Regions from separate parts of the Homo sapiens genome. Here region 2 is linked to region 1. Evidence: fine-mapped expression QTL. Tissue or cell type: whole blood. Region 1 holds a variant in brackets; the other region holds the start of a gene. All regions are shown on one strand. Distances are from middle to middle.

What was found. PIP is the estimated chance that this variant, and not a neighbour inherited with it, causes the effect.
Region 2: FAM177B starts here. The variant in region 1 is fine-mapped to the expression of FAM177B in whole blood (TOPMed, PIP above 0.99).

Annotation. Positions count from the first base shown.
Region 1 is chr1:222,785,968-222,788,654 of GRCh38, reverse strand. No RefSeq gene overlaps it. Among named protein-coding and RNA genes, the nearest start is that of DISP1, 28 kb to the left of the region's middle. The variant A/G (reference allele first, on the strand shown) is at 1,244.
Region 2 is chr1:222,736,047-222,738,733 of GRCh38, reverse strand. It overlaps FAM177B (family with sequence similarity 177 member B), which reads right to left and starts at 1,532. Exons shown (of 6, transcript NM_001394345.1): 1 at 1,412-1,532; 2 at 713-830. RefSeq lists an enhancer at 1,749-2,290.

The sequences.
Region 1 (2,687 bases):
CACCTCCCCAAAAGCTCCACCTCCTAATATTATCACCTTGGGGATTGGGATTTCAACATACAAATTTATCAGGGGACAGAAACATTCAGACGATAGCACCTTGTGTCATCATTTTCCTAATTTTAGTCATAAGAGAATTAAAACTCAGAGAGGTTAAGTGACTTTCCTATAGTCACACAGCTAATTAGTTTGACAGCCAAGATTCCAGCAGCCTTAATATCTTTTTCCAGTGCTATCTATTTGTCAAAACCCTATCTAGTTTTCAACACTCTGGGAACATTCCACCTGCTCCATTAAGCCTTTGCCAGTCCTTCTATGTGGAATAAAATCTTCATTTTTCCGTTCACCAATAGCACTGTGTCTGAACCATTTTTAGAGGTGTTACAACATCATCTTACTTAGATGGAGTTTCTGTTTACTATATTTTTGTCTCCTTGAGGGCAGGCATCATGCCTTCTTCATCTTCACACTCCCACCACTGGAACTGAGCAGAGTGCCTTGTATATTATAGTACCCAATAAATGTTGATGAGCTTGAACCTCTAGGGATTACTTAGGGAGATTTGCACCACCAGGATTCATCTGTTTGGAAAATGGCTAGTTGGTTACCCTGTGACCCAGTGTTTGACTCTTCGGGTTTTGTAGGAGTCCGTATCAGTACAGTCAGACATTCCTTTTCAAGTGCTGCAAACATATGCTGTTCACAAAGCTCACTGGAGGATCTCACATCTGAAATAACCTCCCTCAGCTGTGGGGCCACACCCGGGGTTTGGCTGCCTTGAAGTGGGAGGCGTAAGGCAAATAATAGTGTTTAAGTCATTTGTTTTGTGTGGTTTCTATGTTTATTGGGATTCACTTGACCAGCCAATGTGGAATATTATATGTATAACATACATTATAATGACTATTGTTTATCTCCTTATGTGCAGCTACGGAGGACTTTGAAGGGATGTGAAAAAAGTGCTTAGATACTGTTTCAGGGGCATCCAGGACAAAGCCATGATTAATATCAAAGCATCATGCCCTCTACAAGGGCGTCCTGAGGAGGACGGCAAGTAGAGCACACCTGGCCTCCACACACCAGGCCATGTGCCCATGGGTGGTATCCTTCCAACGGGGTGCCTTTTTCTCATTCATACAGAGGCACTGAAGGGTCTGGTGGAAGGGCCCTATGACCACTCCATCTGATGAAGCTTTCCCCTAATTGCCAATGGTTCCTAAAGTTTAGTCCTTGGTCCACGTGC[A/G]TCGGAATTCCCTGAGTCACTTACATCAAGAGATCCCTGGACCTTCTTGATGAAAACCTCTTAGGGAGACCAGGAATTTGTATTTTCAGCAAGTCCCCTTGGATGATTCCAATGCATAGTCAGACCTGTGGATGCAGGTGTGTTGGCCATCTCTTACCCAGTTTTTTGTACTGCTATTTGGCCCTTTGTGCATTTTAGACTTGCCTCCCTATTGAGAGCATAACTCCTGGAGGGTGGATATTCCACCATGTAGTACATAGCCACTGAGCACCTCACATGAAACAGGGTGTCAAGGAATGCATAAACTACGAGGGGCCCAATTCCTCAACAACAGGAGTTCATGCAACATGTAGATGTCCATTTGATAAATACTGCTTGAACACTTACTATGGGCTGGTGCTGTGCCAGGGACTGAGGAGACATAGCTCTACCCACATGGTTTCTACCGTCTGGGCTACAGACAAATAAACGGGCAATTACAATAGATTGTGGCAGCGTAGAAAGGAGAAGGGATGAGTGATGGGAGCCAGGGGAGAAGCAGCTTAGGCTTCGGAGGCCAGAGGTGCTCAGAGAATGCATCATGGGGAATCCTGGGAGTGAAAGGGTAGAAATCGTCATCTGGGCAGAAGAAACATGAGCGACAGCCTAGAGGTCAAAGAGAACTTCATTTGTTAAGGGAGGCTGGAGAGTAGGTTTTAAGGAGGGGATAAGGTTGGAGAGATAAACAGAAGCCAGCTCATGAAGGGCCTTGCATGCCACGGTAGGTAGAGTGGAGGTGGCCTTGGCATTAAGTGCAAATGTCCCTCCAGCACAGCAGACCTTTTATGTAGGAGCAAGTTTGGAACCAATGTCCTACAGCTTGAAGATTCCTGGCTCATCTGCTCAGGGTTAAAGGAAGAACATTGCTTTCCCCAGGAGGACTTCCAGACTGGCAATCGCCTCTCTCTGTTATGTCAGTCATGTTCCTTCCATCCCTCAGTGCTTGTGGGGGGTTAGGGGGCAGAATATTAATGTACAGGCTTGGCTAGGAAACAGTCCCCTGCATAGGGTAAGGAAGATATATTGCAGATTTAAGGGAATTGTTCAGTCTAGGAATTGGAAGAGCTGAGGAATGCAGTCTTGGCCCAGGACCAAGAATACCAGGTGCTGAAACAATAGGGAAATTTAGATTAGGCTCTGCATGAGAAGACATTACTAAATCAATGTTAAATATTATGGTGATGTGGAAGATTACCTTTATTCTTAGGAGATAGTTGCTGAAGTATTTAGGGGAAAATTGTCATGATATCTGCAACTGACACACACATACCCCCCCATATATATACACACATAGACACATATATCTATTAATATATCTATATACATGCACACATATATACATATATATATGAAAGCAAATGTGACAAAATGTTAACAATTGGTTAACTGAAATAGAAGGCACCTC
Region 2 (2,687 bases), 50 kb after region 1:
CCTAGATGTCGGTATTTTGTAAGTGATCTTCTTTTGGCTTTGGTTTAATTTTTTTTTTCTTTTTTTTGAGACACGGTCTTGCTTTTGCCCAGGCTGGAGTGGTGCAGTGGTGCAACCTCGACCTCCCACAGGCACGTGCCACACGCCCAGCCTTTTTTTTTTTTTTTTTGCAGTTTTTGTAGAGACGGAGTCTCCCTATATTGCCCAGGCTGGTCTTGAACTTCTGGACTCAAGCGATCCTCCTGCCTCAGCCTCCCAAAGTGCTGGGATTACAGGCATGAGCCACTGCGCCCGGCTCAGTTTAATTCTTGGGAGCACCTCTACCTTTTGTTTCTTAAAAACCCCAAATACAGACTATGAAGGATAGTTCCTAAGTATATAATGTAATTAACAGGCCATATAATCTCTCTGACCTTTTAAATATTGTATTACCCCAGGGCTCAGTGATTGGACCTCTTCTCTTTCCTATCTGCTTTCTTGATGATCTCCTTTGGCCCTGTGGCTTTCAATACTATCCACACACAGATGATTGTAACATTTATATTCTCCAGGTCAGACTTTTTCCCTGAGTCTCACAGATCCAACTACCTGCTTGACATCTCTTCTTAGTTGTCTAATGGACATCTCAATCCTAATTTGTCTAAATCTTTGCTCATGCTTTCAGTGCAACTCTCCCTCCATCCCCCCAACACACACATACTCACACATTTACCTCTACTCTTCTGGCAGCCTTCTCATCTCAATAAATGGCAACTCTGTTCTTCCAGTTGCTCAGGCCAACAACACTAAAGTCATTCTTGGTTCTTCTTTAATCACACCTCACATCAAATCTGCCAGGAAATTGTCTTGGATATTTCTGGAATCATACTTTTCATTACTCCACTGCTACCACCCTGGTCTATCATCTCTCACCCTTGCCGTCGTCTCTCACCTAGATTATTGCAGCAGCCTCCTAATTGGCCCCCTCCAGTCTACGCTCGAAAAGGAGCCAGAATTGTTAAATCCTAAGTGAGACCATGTCATGTCTTTGCTTAAAACTCTCCAGTGGGTTCCCGTCTCACCTAGAGTAAAAGCCAAACTCCTCATAATGGCCTACAAGGCTGTATACCTAACCCCTACGAGCTTTCTGACGCCATCTTGTACTACTCTCCCACCACTGACATCACTCTAACCCCACGGGCCTTCTTCCTGCAATTCCCTGACCACACAGGTCCGCCCTCTCTCTCTGCAGAGAGCTCTCTGCTGGCTGCTCTATTAGTCTTTCTTTCCTTAGACTGTTTCCTTGCTCATTTCCAGTCTTTAACTCAAATGGAGACTACACTGAGCTCCGCTTTCAAGGCAACCTCCCATTGCCTTCACCACCACCCTCTGCATCTTACCTCCTGTTTCATTTTTTCTCCTTAGCACTTACCAACACTGAACACTCCATATTCCACCTGTCTCTGTCTTCCCTTTCCTCCCTGTCCTGCCCCTTGGCAGAGGGGGAGGGTTTTACCTGTTATGTTCACTGCTGTATCTTCTGCCCCTATGATGCCTTACACGTAGCTGGAACTCAGTATTTGTTTAACAAATGAATCATACATTTAGTTAAGGTTAATGGGTGGGAGGAGTTATATAACAGATTGGAAAAATAAGAACAGACTTGTAACTGTCTTTATTTCCTGCTTTAGAAATTACTATCTTCATTTAATATTTTTCTGATTACATCTATCTACTAATCATTTCAATTAGCTCCTTCACTGAAACACAGCATTGTAATCTGTACCAAGAAAATAACACACTAGTTCTACATCTTGGCATTTAACTTCAATAAGTAAATATACTATTTTAAGTATGTAACACTTAAACATTTTCTAGAGCTCTTTCCATTTTCATTTATCTAGAAAATGTTTTCAAATGGACTGTTAAAATTCAGCTAAGAACTGATGTTGGGTCATTACGCTGGAGCTAATTAGCATTGCTTGCCTGGAGCTGCTGGTCCCCCTTCCTGCTTCCACCTTTCCTTTTTTCTGAGGTGGTTGAAAGGTCAAACCCCTGGTGAGAGGAGAGAACCAAAGCCCCACTGCGTGCCTCAGATGCAGAGTTTCACAGCGTGGTATTCACTGGGTATTCACCGACATTTCTCTAGGCCCCTTCACCTGAAGGAACTGGCCTGCTCCAATCAGTGACTTGCAGTGTGTGTGTCAGGGGCAAGGATAGAGTGAGGAAAAATGTGAAATAACAAATCACTGCCGCTCCTTGAGAATTACAGGAGCATCACCTGGCAGGATTTTTGTATCCTTATTTTCAGTATTAAACCACATACATGCACCCCACTGCCTGCATGCCTGTCCATGCCTGTCCCACTGTGGTGTTTCACAGCATTTTTTACATCATGGCAGATAGAGAAAATTAGTTGTTTGGAATTCTGGAGGCGACCAGCCTGGGAGCTCCAGCCACCTTAAGTGCTGCCCAGCTAGACACCCAGAAGGCTTCGATCAATAGCTTGAGACAAACTACTTGAGAAGCTCTGCATTAGAGAAGCAAATTCAAGTCTTGACATTTTCTCAGGGGAGTGCTCTGAAAGTGACTATATAAGCTTCTACCGACCTCAAGCAAATCACAGGCATTAGATACATTAAATTGCTGAAGTGATAGCTCTGGCTTTTTGGATATGCACAATCAAATATAGTTTTCTGTTTTATAAT